Linked DNA regions of Homo sapiens: region 2 is linked to region 1. The links come from fine-mapping of genetic effects on plasma protein levels. A gene starts in region 1. The other region holds a variant in brackets. All regions are shown on one strand. Distances are from middle to middle.

Region 1 (8,536 bases):
TTGAACAATGAGAACACTTGGACACAGGAAGGGGAACATCACACTCCAGGGCCTGTTGTGGGGTGGGGGGAGGGGGGAGGGATAGCATTAGGAGATATACCTAATGTTAAATGACGAGTTAGTGGGTGCAGCGCACCAACATGGCACATGTATACATATATAACAAACCTGCACGTTGTGCACATGTACCCTAAAACTTAAAGTATAATAAAAAAAAGGAAAGAAAACAGGAGATATTGGAGATCTCAGGCAGCCATCACAAATGTTTTCTATTTATTAGGAAGAGACACTCTTAACCAGAGACGCTGAAGAGCCAAAGACAGGAGAACTCACCAAACTGTCCACTGACAGGAGCTGCAAAAAAATAAGAGCCAGAGATGAGCACAGAACCATGATTATTTTGTTTTAAGAAGATAATTCCCTTTTTTACCCATGCATGTATTACTTGTCCCTTTAAAAAATTCATTTAAAAACTCTAATAATTATTCATCAAATGTATATATATACACATAAATATACATATATATACATATATATATGGCATGGTATTTGGACTTCTACAATGAATTTTAAAAATGGTATCTGCCATCAAGAAGTTGACTAGTGGAAAAACAGAAACACGATTTAAAATAATATAACACAGGGTGTAAGTGCAATAACAGAAATACACATGGGGTATGTTGGGGGCAGAAGGGCCACTAGCCCAGTGTGTAGGATATATGTGTGTGTGTAGAGTGTGTGTTTGTGTGTACATGTGTTGAACAGGATGGGTGGATCCTTGAAGGTACCTGAAGGAGATGATACTTCACAAAACTGTGAGTGAGAACATGAGTCTGCAGGTGGATGTTAGCATTTGTGTGTGGTAAGAGGCGATTTCTACCTTTCAAGGTAGAAAGGGCACAGAAGTGGAGAAATGACATTGGTGCTCAGGAACTGGGAGTGTTGGGGGAAATAAGACCAGAGAAGCATGCAGGGCCTGAGTAAGTGGTTCTAATTTTATTATAAAAGTGATAAGGAGTCATGGAATGGTTTCAAGGAGGAGATTGACAAGGTTAGAATTTCAGACTTTGATGGAGCACTCTGTCAGTGGACAGAATTTAATGGGACAATATGAAGCAGGGAGACTGATTAGAAGGCAGGGCAAGGAAATGGACATGAATTAAGCCTCCCTTGGGCACCAGACTCCAGGCTATACTCTTTTCATGAGATCATTGAATCCAAGGGCTCATTATCATCATGCCTAATTTTTAAACAATCAACTGATGCTCAGATTATTTAGACCTGATGCTCAGCCCAAGAGATGGTAATGTGTAATTTTTGTCAGAGTATTTATCCAAATTATCTTCATTATCTGCTTGTTTATTTTCCCTTCTCTATAATGCAAGCTCTATGAGACCTAGGACTTTCCTTATGTTCACCATATATCCTCCAGGACCTATAACGGTGAATGGCATATAAAAGATATTCCTTTAATGTTCACTAAATATATTTGTGTTGTATAATGAATTAATTAAAGAACTAGGTTAATAATATAGGAATAGAAGGATAGAGATTTGAGAAATGGGTAATGAAGAGAGAGAGGACACAAAACTGGCAGGTTTATCAATTGAGTAGGTATTCTGCATATGGGTTGATTTATTTATTCAACAGATTTTTGGAATGCCAATCATACTCCAGAGCAAGGCAATAGAAATCCAGGAGTGTGTGAGAGACAAATCATCCCTGTCCACATGAGGCTATTGGAGACTTATCCAAACTTAAGTGTTTTACTGAGAACAACAAATTATTCACCATTCACCTGAATATTTTGGCTTCCTTCATCTTTGCATTGTTTTAAATGAAGCTAATATTTTTGTGAGTGGTTTCTATATGGTCTGCATTTACGTAGGTTATTTCATATAACCATGTCAATAATCCTGTGAGGTAAGCACTAGGATTAACTGCATTTTGTAGACCAGGAATCTGGTAGCCAGTAGGTGGCAAGATGAAGTTTGAACCTAGATCCTGTTTGACCCCAGAGCCCATGTTATAAACTTTGCCCTCTCATGCTCAGGACCTGGCCATTACCCACATTGTGTGGGGCCACACTGAGATGTATTCCTACTTCAGGAATTATAGTCCATGCACCTTCCAACTGTGAGGTCCTCTTTTCTTATATCACGCCTGCTCCATTTCTGCTCCTCTAGCTCCTACTCACCTCTAAGTTTCATGAAGTCTTTACTAGCTATTTTGAATACAGTTTATTATCTGCCTACAGCATTCATTGGTAACTTTGCCTGGACAATTATTTAACTGGGAGCTTGTTGCATAGCTGCTTGAAAGTACATTGGCCTTGCTGGGAGCCCTTCTATGTCATGACTTTCCAGAACATAGACGTAGTGTCTCCTATGGACTCTAATTGCTCAGCACCTGTGCATAGATATTACTAAACACATTTGCTGAACAAATAAATAAACATATTTAATTATAATATTTAACCTTTAGTAAAAATCAACCAGTTCGCACATATGAGTTGATAGAGACTTACGTACACCCACAGGGACAAAGAGAAAGTCATATGCTTTAGATTTATCCTTGCTTTGTCCACCTACGCCTCTGCGACCTCCTCCACCCCATGTTCTTAATCAGCCAATTGCTGCAGTGGTTTGCAATTATGTACAAGAGAAAGACCTGTCTTTCCCGTTAGAAACCTTGCCTCTTATGCTGGGGACCAGGATCTGGCCTTGTCATACAAGGAATAAATACATCTCCTCTGCAGAGAGGAGAGTGGGCTCTTCTATGAGTAAGACAATATGAACAAACAAACATGAAACATTCTCTGGACTTTAAGAAGTACTTTTTAAAGAAAAAAATAAATGAAATTTTAATTGTTGTGGTTATTGTGGTTTCCTACTCTGTAAGATTGAAAATTCCTTCCAGCTGTGGCCATTTTCTTCAGCCTCAAGAGAAAGCCCTGAGCTACAGAGTAAAGTTCAAAAATACAGTCTCCTAATGTAGGAGAGAGTCTCTCAGCAGGGGCTGAGCCCCAAGAAAGGACCAGGCCTGCGGTGGAGAGAGAAGCTGTCCCGATCCCACCCAGGGCCCATGGTGAGCCCTTTTACTCACCCAGGACCAGTAATATCACCCACAGCAGCATGAAGACCTGGACCACCAAGGGCTGAGATCAAAAGAGAAGTTTCCTCAATTCCAAAACAGGTTTGGACTTGATCTTACAGTCAGGACACTGCACACCAGCTCCAAGGAGCACATCTGAGAAGCTGTGCTCTCAAAAAGAGCAGAATGCATTAGTGAATTGAAAAAAGGAAGTGGGAGTACCCGTCTTCAGCTGCTAATCACAGTTTCCTACCCGATGATCAAAGAAAAAAAAAAGTTAAGGTTTTAAAAAATCAAATACCCTTGACCCTACATTTTTGCTATTGGGAAATTACCCTGAAGGAAGTATCTGAAGAGAGTACTATAAGAACGTTTATTGTAGCATTCATTATTGCCTAAACACTGGAAACAAAACAAAAAACCATGATATGGGGACTGTTTAAGAATATTCTGATTCATCCGTATGGTGACAAGCAATCATTAAAGAATAAGGTAAATCTGAACATGCCAAGAAGGGAAGACCACCTTGTTTGATGTGAAGAGAATAAAAGTGAGATATAGATTGGTTTTGTAGTATTATCCCATTGGGTAAATATAAAAAATAGGATATATGTGTACATCAACTCTTTTAAGTATACTTTCTTCTTTTCCTGGAAAGTACACACAAAAATATTGATTATGTTTGAGGAGCAATAGGTGGGAAGAACACAATTTATTTTATGTATTTCTGTACCGTTTGATTTTTTAAAAAATTACCAGGTGAATGTATAGCTCTTATGATTTTCTAAAAGTCAAGTTTCCATCCTGGTATACTGGTCAACAGAGGTTCCTAAGACATTAGCTGCCACGAGGAGTGCCAGTTTCTTTCTTTCAAATATTTTCTCACCCTTTCTCTCTGGGCCCATACCTTGGTCTTCCTAAGGGGGCATTTAATTTTATATCTACAAATGCACATCACCTTAGGTATATTATGTCACATCTGACCCACTGCACCCTGAGGCAAGAAAACCATACAGGGGTTACAGGGGTGAATAGAGATTAAGAGGAGAACTTCAAAGGGAACACAGAATCTTTACCTACTTTTGGTGCTAAAACAAATAGTGCTGCTATGAACATTCTTGTATACATTTATTGGGGCATATGCGCACATAATTCTGTTGGGTATATATCTGGGAGTGGAAGTCCTGGCTCATAAGGTATGCATATATTCAGTTTAGGAAGTATTACCAAATTATTTTCCAAAGTGGTTGTGCCAATTCCCACCACACCCACCAACCAATGTATGAGAGTTATCATTGTTCTAAAATTCTTGCTGATATTGGTATTGTCATCTAGTAAAATCTGGCCGTTCTGCTAGAATTATCTCAATGTGGTTTTAATTTGTATGTCTCTGGTGAATTTGAGAATGAGCATTTTTTCATAGTCTAATTGGTGATGTAGATATCCTTTTTATGTGCAATCTCTGTTCAAATATTTCCTCATTTTTCTCTTAACTTTCAGTCTTTCTTTTCCTGTTTTGTAGTTATTTTAAACCCTGAATATAAACCTTTTGTTGGATATATGTATTGCAAATGTCTTCCTTCAATCTGTGGCTTGCTTCTTTGCTCATTGATAGTGCCTTTTGATGAACAACCATTCTAACTTTGACATAGTCCAGTTTATCAGTCTTCTCCTTTGTGGTTAGAGATTTTTGCATCCCTTCTAAGAAAGTTAGTCTACTCCAAGATCATAAAGATACTCTCCCAGGTTATCTTCTAGAAACTTTATTTTTTACCATTTATTTTATATTTATAAGAGCATTGCAATTGATTTTTGTGTACAGTTTGAGTGTTTATATTCACTTTTAACTTAAATACAGATAATTTATCCTGCCCTATTTATTGAAAGTTGATTTTTTCCACAGTACAGTGCAATTTCACCTTTGTTATAAAACAAAAAGCCATGTAGGTCTATTTTTGGAAACTCCTTTCTTGTCCATTAGTCTATTTTGTCTATCCTCATGCCAATACCACACTCTTCTAATTATTGTGGCTTTATAATAACTCTTATTAACTGATAGTTTAAGTCATAAAATGCTGTTCTTCTTCAAAATTGTTATGGCTATTTTTGGCTTTTTGAATTTTTCTATACATTTAAAAATCACCTTGTCAATTCCTGTCCCCTCTCTCCCCAAAAGCCTAGTAGATTTTTAATAACTGGGATTGCATTGGATTTATAAGTTAATTTGTATAAATTAGAAAAGATTTAGTCTCCCAATCCATAAACATACAATATCCCCTCATTTATTTAGGTTAACTTGACATTCTTTCAGTAATTTTCTATAGCTTTGCCTCTGGAAAGTATATCTTTTGGTAGGTTTATCCTTAGGTTATTGATATGTTTTTTATGATATTGTAAGTGACATCATTAGATTTTTTTCTAAATGTATATTGGTATATAGAAATATAATACTTTTTTGTTTTACTGACCATTATTTTTATTTTTTTGAGACAGAGTTTTGCTCTTGTCCCCCAGGCTGGAGTGCACTGGTGCGATCTTGGCTCATTGCAACCTCCACCTCCCAGGTTCAAGCGATTCTCCTGCCTTAGCGTCCCAAGTAGCTGGGATTATAGGTGTCTGCCACCATGCCCAGCTAATTTTTGTATTTTTAGTAGAGATGAGGTTTCACCATGTTGGCCAGGCTGGTCTCAAACTCCTGACCTCAAGTTATCTGCCCGCCTTGGCCTCCAAAAGTGCTAGGATTACAAGCGTGAGCCACCATGCCCGGCCTTACTGACCTTTTAATATCTACTAAAATTGCGGAATTTACTTATTAATTTTAATAGTTTATCTTTAGGTTATTTTAGATTTCATGCAAACACAATCATATAATGATAGTTTTATTCATTATTTTTAATACTTAAACTTCCTTTTCTCTCACTTATTGCACTGACTAGGAACTCAAACATGATACTAAAGAGAAGTGGTAATATCAGGTGTCCTGTCTTAGTCTCACAGAAAAAGCTCTTAATATTTCAATATTAAATATAATATTTTCTGTAATTTTTTTTGGTGAATACTATGTATCAGATTAAATACCTTTCCTTATATTTCTAATTTGCTAAGAAATTTTCCTTTTTTCCTAAATAATGGATGCTGTTTCAGTAAATACCTTTATTGCCTCTATTAATATGATCATATGATTATTTACTTTTATTGTTAATATGATGAATTACATGGATGATTATAAATGTAAAATCAACTGTGCATTCCAACTTGGCCATGATGTGTTATCTTTTTTATATATTCTTGAATTTGACTTATAAATTTGCTGTGCTTTTTAGCATTTGTGTTCATGAGGAAGATGGACCAATTTTCTTTCTTGATGAATTTTAGTAACAAAATTATATTGGTCTCATAAGCAAGCTCCTTCTTTTTCTATTTTCGTGAAGAGTTTGTGTACGACTGATGTTATTTCTTCCTTAAATGTTTGGAAGATTTTACTGGTAAAGGTACTTACTTAGGCTTATGAAAAAATGCTCACCATCACTGGCCATCAGAGAAATGCAAATCAAAACCACAATGAGATATCATCTCACACCAGTTAGAATGGCAATCATTAAAAAGTCAGGAAACAACACGTGCTGGAGAGGATGTGGAGAAATAGGAACACTTTTACACTGTTGGTGGGAGTGTAAACTAGTTCAACCATTGTGGAAGTCAGTGTGGCGATTCCTCAGGAATCTGGAACTAGAAATACCATTTGACCCAGCCATCCCATTACTGGGTATATACCCAAAGGACTATAAATCATGCTGCTATAAAGGCACATGCACACGTATGTTTACTGCGGCATTATTCACAATAGCAAAGACTTGGAACCAACCCAAATGTCCAACAATGATAGACTGGATTAAGAAAATGTGGCACGTGTACACCATGGAATACTATGCAGCCATAAAAAATGAGTTCATGTCCTTTGTAGGGACACGGATGAAATTGGAAATCATCATTCTCAGTAAACTATGGCAAGAACAAAAAACCAAACACCACATATTCTCACTCATAGGTGGGAATTGAACAATGAGAACACATGGACACAGGAAGGGGAACATCACACTCTGGGGACTGTTGTGGGGTGGGGGGAGGGGGGAGGGATAGCATTGGGAGATATACCTAATGCTAGATGACGAGTTAGTGGGTGCAGAGCACCAGCATGGCACATGTATACATATGTAACTAACCCGCACAATGTGCACATGTACCCTAAAACTTAAAGTATAATAATAATTAAAAAAAAGTACTTAGGCTTGGAACTTTCTCTGGAGGAGGGCAAATTACAGATTTGATTTTTAAAACTGATATGAGATTATTCAGATACTTTATTTCTTCTTGTGCCAGTTTTGATATGTTGTATATTTTTAGGAATTTGCTTATCAATATTTCCAAGTCTATTGGCACAACATTATTTACAATGTCCTCATTTATTTTTTAATATATTTGAGATCTGTAGTAATGTTTTTTATTTTTTCACTCATAATATTGATAACTGTCTTCTCTTAGTCATTCTTTTATTCTTGATCAGTCTCTAGAGGGAATCATCAATTGAATTAGCCTTTTCAAAGAACCTTTTGGCTTTGTTGATTTTTCTGTATTGTATGTTCATTTTCTATTTCATTAATTTCTCCTCTTTTCTTTAATATTTACTTCATTTTACCTTTTAAAAGTTAACTTGCTTTTTAAAAACTTCTTACAGGGATACTTAGGTCTTTGATTTTTTAATCTTTTATTTTCCAATATGCTATACAGTTTTGTCTAAGTGTGACTGCAATGTGTAAGTTTTGATATGTCATATCTCTATGATCATTTTGTTAAGAATATTATTAATTTCCATTAGGGTGTTCCTTCTGGCCAATGGGTTGTTTTGAAGTGTATTGTTTCTTTTCCTAATAGAGATTTTCATTTTTGTTGATATTAATCTCTAGTTTAATTCCACTGTGGTCTGAGAACATATTTTGTGATTTCAGTCTTTTGAAATATGTTGAAATTTGCTTTATGGGCTAGTACATAGTCACGTTTTGTAAATTTTCCATGTTTTCTTTAAAACAATGTATATTTGCAAATATTGGTGCAGCATTTCATTTCTGTGAATTACATAATTTTATATTCTATATTGTGTTATTCAAATATCCTATGGTCTTACTATTTTTTCTAATATTCTATAAGTTACCAAGAGAATTATGTTAGGGTTTTCCATTATCATGGTGAATTTGTCAACTTCCTTTTTATTTCTGTCTTTTTTTGTTTTATATTTTGAAGTTATTTTATGAAGCGCTTACACATTTAGAATTGTTACCTCTTCCTGATAATTTGACACACTCGCCATTATTAAATATCTCTCTTTATCTCTGTTTCTTGCCTGAAAGCCACACTGGGAGAGTCTCATCTACATTTGGACTTGATT
Region 2 (8,000 bases), 13 kb before region 1:
ACCTGGCTAATTTTTGTATTTTTAGTAGACACAGGATTTCACTATGTTGGCCAGGCTGGTCTCAAACTCCTGACCTCAGGTGATCCACCTGCCTCAGCCTCCCAAAGTGCTGGAATTACAGGCATGAGCCACCTCTCCTGGCCATGACTCAGTTTTTATCTTTCATCATCTCTTAGCTTTGCCTTATCCAAACTGGCTCACTATCATCTGCTTAGAACATGTTCTACCCTTGGTGACAGTGGGGCACACTCTCACAGTGAGTGCCTTTTCCCTTGGCCAGAGTCCTTCCTTCTCATGTCCCATTTCCTCTACTGGGACTAGACTGGGGGTTCTGTCCAACTGGACACTCCCTTGTTGGGCTCCCTCCTTCACGCCTGGCTGCTCCTCAAACAGGTTGCTCTATGACCTGATCCCCACTGTACTGCTGGAGTGGTTTTCCCCAACATTTAAAACCTTCATGGAGCCCAGATTGCCCTGCAGAATATGGCCCAAGCCCTTACTCTGCTTCTAAGTAGGTTCTAATGATGTTGTCTTCCCCAACCTTATCTTGTGGTTCTCCACTGTTCTGTCTATGGTTCAGTCATCAAGAACTGACCACTCTCCAGTTCCTTGAAAGTGTCCTCCCTCCCTCACCACAATCCTCTTCTCCATCAGGTCTCATCTTGTTGCGGGAAGTCAGGGACCCCGAATGGAGGGACCAACTGAAGCCATGGCAGAAGAACATAAATTTTGAAGATTTCATGGACATTTATTAGTTCCCCAAATTAATACTTTTATAATTTCTTATGCCTGTCTTTACTGCAATCTCTGAACATAAATTGTGAAGATTTCATGGACACTTATCACTTCCACAGTCAATACCCTTGTGATTTCCTATGCCTGTCTTTACTTTAATCTCTTAATCCCATCATTTTTGTAAACTGAGGATGAATGTCACCTCAGGACCCTGTGATAATTGTGTTAACTGCACAAATTGTTTAAACAATATGAAATCTGGGCACCTTGAAAAAAGAACAGGATAACAGCAATGTTCAGGGAACAAGGGAGATAACCTTAAACTCTGGCTGCCTGTGAGCTGGGTGGAACAGAGTCATATTTTTCTTCTTTCTAAATCAAATAGGAGAGATATCACTGAATTCTTTTTCTCAGCAAGGAACATCCCTGAGAAAGAGAATATGTCCCTAAGGGGAGGCCTCTGAAATGGCCGCTTTGGGGATGGCTGTCTTTTATGATCGTTGCTGAGGGATGAAATAAGCTCTGGTCTCCTGTAGTGCTCCCAGGCTTATTAGGACGAGGAAATTCCTGCCTAATAAATTTTGGTCAGACTGGTTGTCTGCTCTCAAAACCCTGTCTCCTGATAAGATGTTATCAATGACAATGCGTGCCCGAAGCTTCATTAGCAATTTTAATTTCGCCCCGGTCCTGTGGTCCTGTGAGCTCACCCTGCCTCCATTTGCCTTGTGATATTTTATTACTTTGTGAAGCATGTGATCTCTGTGAGCCACACCCTATTAGTACACTCCCTCCACTTTTGAAAATCACTAATAAAAACTTGCTGGTTTTATGGCTTAAGGGGCATCATGGAACCTGCCGACATGTGATGTCGCCCCCGGACACCCAGCTTTAAAATTGTTCTCTTTTGTACTCTGTCCCTTTATTTCTGAGACCAGCTGACACTTAGGGAAAATAGAAAAGAACCTATGTAAAATATTGGGGGTGAATTTCCCCCGATATCATCTCAAATTCCAAGAATTGTTTTCTCACTTTCCAACTCAGATTGGCATGCCTTTCATCTGCTCCTGCAGCCACCAGGTACTTCTAAACTTAGGTTGATGTTTTCTCTATTACTTGACTGCATTTGCTATTAGCCCCTGTGAACTGTGTGGGCAGGGCCAGGTTAGTGTAGTCTTAGATGCATCCTTAGATGTCACTACATCTAGGTGTATATATAGAATCAGCATTTAGTAGGTGAAGAAGTGGGTCATTTAATAGGACTTTAAACATCTCTGAGTGTGTTTGATCATGATGTCCCTGTCTCCACTTTCCTTGGGCCTCTGAATGTTAGGAGTACTGTTCTTTTTCTACATCATTTGATGACTCCCCCTGGGTTCCCTGGCCCTCTCCTTTATAATCACACACATCCATGTGGGAGGGACTGGATTCTTGCTTGTCTTCCAAGGTGGTATTATTGTTTTACAGGAAAGGAAACTGAGGCCGCTTCCGGGACCAACCAAGACTGGACTCTCTGTCTCCAGTATAGGCCCAAATCACACTGTCTCCTTCAACATTGAACCTGGCCATTTAGCCACACATGGATGGTTCAAAACTGAGATCCAAAGCTCAAAGGAAACCTTTTTGATGTCATAACTATTTGACAGTTACCTGAGTAGCCGTGAGGGCATTAAGCCAAGCAAGTAGAGGTTAAGCTGTCTCCTGACCTGCCCTCAGCCCACTGCTGTCTGTGCCTTTCTTACCTACTGCCCAATCAACCCTAAAAAAGGCTTGAGCAAGGGAGACATGTTGGGTTAACTGTGATCCAGCGACTTGTCTTTGTGTCTTACATGACTTTGCATCTGGTTATTCATTGATGTCTGATGTTAACTGGACAGGGGACATTTCTGTGCTCCTGAGAACTGAGTCTGAGTCTATATCTACTAAGAATAATTTAGTAAACAAAAATCAGGCATCTGGCAGATCTACAGGACAAGTGGAGAGCACAAGAAAAGCAATTGGCTGCTCAGAATTTGAGGAGCAGGGAAAAGAAAGCTGCTACATCATTAGGCAGGGGTGGGAAGGCACCCAGACTGCAATGGGATGAGGCTCAAGGGGCAGACAGCTGGTTCAGTGAGCTAGAGAGTGGAGGAGGATATTAGGTTGTTTCAAGAAAGAAACAGAGGATACTAGAAGGTACACGCTGACTTCTGAAGGGTTGGGTAAGAGAGGACTCTTGGCCAGGGGTGGGTGATTGGCAGGAACCCAGGGCTTACCAGTGACGGAGAGGCTCACCGCCTTACTGCGCTGGGGGCCAAAGCCATTGTCAGCTGTGCAGTAGTAGTTCCCTGAATGCTCTGCAGTCAGAGAGAAGCTGATGGCCACTCCTCCTGCAGAGTTGGCCGACCTACGCTCCAGGGCAGCACCCTCATGATGAAACTGGTACAGGATGGGGAGTGAACCTCTCTGGGCTTCACAGTGAAGTGTCACCTTGGCTCCCTCAAAAATCAGGTCCTCAGGAGAGCTGAGGTTGAGGACAGGATGAGACACGGGAACTGAGAGAGAGAAAAAATTAGTCAAGATTTGTTTCTGCCTCCTGCTGTAGTTTTCATAAAAGGAAAATAAATCTTGGGAACCCCAAATCACTAAGCCAAAGGGAAAAGTCAAGCTGGGAACTATTTCAGGCAAACCTGCTTTTTATTTTATTCCTTAATAAGATAACTTCAAAGACTTTTCTAAAAGCTACATACCTCCCTCAAAATTTGTCCACTGAAATATTATTTGTGGGCCCCAAGATCTTTACCCTAAAATGGTTCTGTTTTAAATGGTTCTGTTTTACCCTAACAGTGTAAATTGATAGCTGATTTTCACAAGTGCAGGACAAAAGACAGAACTTTAAGTCATTGCTGCTTACAGGAGACAAATGCATATCTGATTATTTCCCTGACTTAAAAATGCAGACTCACTGGGCTAAAGGAAGACAGAAGTGACTATTCCTCTGCCCCTCTCTCACATGTAAATTGTGTATTCTGCTAAAGGTTGATCAAAGACTCAAAAGAATGCAACTGTTTGTCTGTTATTTACACATACTTTTAAAAAAATTTCTTCCTTTTTCTCCATATCTTCCCTTTCACCTTTAAATATTGAAACCCTCAAAATCATCTTTGGAGAAGGCAGGGAGCTGAATCTGGGGCACATGTCTTTAGCCATGGCAAAATATACTATCCAAATTGATTGAGACCTGTCTCAGATAGTTTTTGGTTCACAGATTCAATGTTTCACCAGTGCAGTTGTTCAGTCTCCAGTCCACAGGCTCTACCCACCTGCAGGGTGACCCAGCCACTTCCCAGGCTACTCTCACCAGCTCTCCTGTCCTCCATCCTAGTCATTCCCTGTCTTTTCCTTTTCCACCAGACCTCTTGTCTTTTCTCCTCTCCCAGCTCCCCTTGTTGTAGGACCTGCCTCTGTTGTGCAGAGATGTTGCTCTCAAAGAATTCCCTTGTCTTTCCACCAGCAGAACCACACCCTTACCTGCATCAGCTCCTCACTCTGACCTGGGCCCTGAGGCTATGGAGGAGCCCTCCTTGGCCTGCCTGGGGGGATTTTCTTCTGTCTTTTCATCCTGTGCTCACCTGCCTCTGTCCTAGATAAAAGGTTTTTACCTCTACTGGCTTCTTGCAAACACCATTTGCATGTGTTTAACCCTCTCCATGTTTAAAAAAAAAAAAAACCATCAGACAATAGAAAAACAACCCTATTTGCATTTGCAGTTCCTCACAGTCGGTTTCTCC[G/A]CCTTTCTGTAGTCAGTCTTCTGGAAGAAGTGACCTACCTTTAACATCTCTACTTCTTTATCTCATATCTCATATGCATGTTTTGTCCATTACAACTTGGTTTTAATCCCCAACAATCTACTAAAGTGGATTTTCATGTTTCTGAATATAATTATGATGATAAAGATAAAAATAATAAAATAGATGTTTGTTATAATGACACTATAGTGTCTTTAAGTAAGTTCTGGTGTTTGTATATTTGTTGGATGTAATTTGTAAATATCGATATATAGAGAGACTCTAATTTAATCATCTAAGCAATTCATTGAGGTGGGTATTATTGTTGCCCCTCTTTCACAGATGAACATGCTGAGGCCCCGAGTGGGTGAGTCACACAGCTAGTAAGTGAAGAGGCAGCAGTCAAACCCAGGTATTCTGATTCTAGTCTGTCTTCTGCCAAAGAGTACTTTGTGGCTAAATTCACTGGATGTGACTCAGTTTTTATCTGTCATCATCTCTTAGCTTTGCCTTATCCAAACCAGCTCCCTCTCTTCTGCTTAGAACACATTCTGCCCTTGGTGACAGTGGGGCACACTCTCACAGTGCCTCTTGCTTCAACCGGAGTCCTTCCTTCTCAAGTCCCAACTCCTCTACTGGGACTGGCCTGGGGTTTGCTCCAACTGGACGCTCTCTTGATGAACCCTCTCTTTTACTCCTGGCTGCCCCCCAAACTGGCTGCTCTATGACTCATTTCTCACTGTGCTGCTGGAGTGGTTTTCCCCAAGATTTAAAGCATTCATGGAGCCCAGATTGCCCTGCAAAATATGGCCCAAGCCCTTACTCTGCTTCTAAATATGGTCTAAACATACCTTCCTCTCCAACCTTATCCTACCTTTCTCCACTGTTCAGTCTGTGCTGCAGTCGTCAAGAACCGACTGCCCCTCCAGTTCCTGGAACATGCCTTCCCTCCCTCACCACAATCCTCTTCTCCTGAAATGTTCCCACTCATCCTCAGGTCTCAACTCACACATGAGTTCTTCCAAGAAATTTTTTCTCACTTCCCAACTCAGATTGGCATGCCTTTCCATCTGCTCCTGCAGCCACCAGGTGCTTCTATCCTCAGGTTGATGTTTAATCTCTTACTTGACTGCATTTGCTATTAGCCCCTACGAACTGTGTGGGGAAGGCCAGGTTAGTGTAGTCGTAGATGCATCTTTAGATGTCAGTACAGTCTGGTCCATGGAATATATGCAATCAGCATTTATTAGGTGAAGAAGTGAGTCATTGAATAGGACTTTAAACATCTCTGAGCATGTTTGATCATGATGTCACTGTCTCCACTTTCTTTGGGCCACTGAATGTCAGGGACACTGTTCTCTTTCTACGTCATTTGATGTCTCCCGCTGGGTTCCCTGGTCCTCTCCTTTATAATCTCACACATCCATGTGGGAGGGACTGGATTCTTGCTTGTCTTCCAAGCTGGTATTATTGTTTTACAGGAAAGGAAACTGATGCCGCTTCCAGGACCAACCAAGACTGGACTCTCTGTCACCAGTATAGACCCAAATCACACTGTCTCCTTCAACATTGGACCTGGCATTCAGCCATGCATGGATGGTTCGAAACTGAGATCCAAAGCTCAAAGGAAACCTTTTTGATGTCATAACTATTTGGCAGCTACCTGAATAGCTCTGAGGGCATTAAGCCAAGCAAGTAGAGGTGAAGCTATCTCCTGGCCTGCCCCCAGCCCACCATTGCCCGTGCCTTTCTTACCTACTGCCCATCAACTCTAAAAAAGGCTTGAGCAAGAAGGACATGCTGGGTTAACTATGATCCAGCGACTTGTCTTTGTGTCTTACATGTCTTTGCCTTTGGTTTATTGATTAATGTCTGATATTAACAGAACAGGAGATACCTCTGTGCTCCTGGAAATTGAGTCTGTGTCTACTGAGAATAATATAGTGAATGAAAATCAGTCATCTGGGGAGCCACAGGACAAGTGGAAAGCACAAGAAAAGCACTTGGCTTCTCAGAAATTGGGAACCAGGGGATAGAAAGCCACTGCACCATCAGGCAGGGGTATAAGGGCACCTAGACTGCAATGCAACGAGACTCAAGAGGCAGACAGCTGGTTCAGTGAGCCGGAGAGTGGAGGAGGACATTAGGTTTTCCCAAGAAAGAAACTGAGGATACTGGAAGGTATATGCTGACTTCCGAAGGGCAGGGTGAGGCAGGACTCTTGGCCAGGGGTGGGTGATTGGCAGGAATGCAGGGCTTACCAGTGACTGAGAGGCTCACAGCCTTACTGGGCTTGGCGCCAAGGCCATTGTCAGCTGTGCAGTAGTAGTTCCCTGAATTCTCTGTAGTCAGTGAGAAGCTGATGGATGCTCCCCTTTCACAGCGGACTGACTTGTGCCTCAGGGGGACACCCTCATGATAAAACCTGTACAAAGTGCGCAGAGAATCTTCCTGGGTTTCACAGTGAAGTGTCACCTTGGTTCCCTCAAAATTCAGAGCCTTTTCAGGGCTGAGAGTGAGGACAGGATGAGATGCAGGGACTGAGCAAGAGAAAAAATTAGTCAAGAATTGCTTTTGCCTCTTACTGTAGATTACAAGGCATGGCCAGTGCAAATGCCCAGTCTCCAGTCTCCACCCTTAACTTGCTGCCATCAGAACCACACACCCTTACCTGCACCTGCTTCTTGCTCCTTCCTTCTGCCCTATGACTATGGAATGTTGCACCTGAAGTGCCCAATTATTCTGAGTCTTCTTTCCTATCCCTGTTTATTTCTCCTTCACTTGCATTGGCCTCAGGGATTTATTTGCCATTGCTAGTTTTTCCTTAAAGATTAGCATAGTCTTCTAGAGCTTTTTCTTCTGCTCCTACTCTCTCCCTTGGCCCAGACTGACCTTCTTTATTTACAGGTGAGAAAACTGAGTCAAGGAGAGACTAGGAGACCTGCCTGTGTAGGCTGTTTTCAGGGCCAGCCAGGGCCAGAGTTGGTGTCCTGACTCCTAGTCTGGTGATGATCACATTGCCTCCTTATAAGTGAGCCCGGAGTTTGCCATGAGTGGAGGGATGACACAGGGCTCTACAGAAGCTGTTTTTCCCTCATCACTGTAACTACCATAATAGCTTTGAAGGAAGGATGGTGCTGTATACTAGTAAGGGAGGTGATGTAATCTGGGGTGCATATTTGTACTCATAACTAGGGAATGGTAAACCTCCAGAGTCACATATTTGGAGTAACTATAATGTTGCAACCTGTCTTTGTATCCTACAGAAATTTTCACTTTGGTTATTGTCAATAAGTAATGTTAATTGGGACAACAGATACCTCTGTACACCAGAGTCAGAGAGCTATGCCACAGCCCATGGCTTATCCCTATGGGCCTAGAAGAAAAAAAAATGATGTCAGGGAAGAGAACCCTGCGAGAGAAAAGAAAGAATTGTATTTAATGGCATTGAAAGAAAAAAAATTAGACCTTTCTTTTCTTGGATTTTCCTGGGTCTAAGCT

Direction of the effects. Positions count from the first base shown, and alleles are read on the strand shown. Strength reflects both the effect of a copy and how common the allele is.
With allele G in place of A in region 2, the plasma level of the protein whose gene starts at base 3,289 in region 1 is higher (strong association).

The links. A credible set is the group of variants that fine-mapping cannot tell apart. PIP is the chance, under the fine-mapping model, that this variant and not a neighbour inherited with it causes the effect. Protein levels are from antibody-based Olink assays in UK Biobank. Linkage for the fine-mapping came from a reference panel and not from the study's own genotypes, which makes the PIPs less certain.
Region 2: its variant is the best candidate, but not a certain one, in a credible set for the plasma level of the FCRL5 protein (UK Biobank, PIP 0.52).

Annotation. Positions count from the first base shown.
Region 1 is chr1:157,549,227-157,557,762 of GRCh38, forward strand. It overlaps FCRL5 (Fc receptor like 5), which reads right to left and starts at 3,289. Exons shown (of 17, transcript NM_031281.3): 1 at 3,106-3,289; 2 at 334-354. The coding sequence starts at 3,136.
Region 2 is chr1:157,536,099-157,544,098 of GRCh38, forward strand. It overlaps FCRL5 (Fc receptor like 5), which reads right to left. Exons shown (of 17, transcript NM_031281.3): 6 at 6,761-7,039; 7 at 2,988-3,266. Among named protein-coding and RNA genes, the nearest start is that of FCRL5, 12 kb to the right of the region's middle. The variant G/A (reference allele first, on the strand shown) is at 4,503.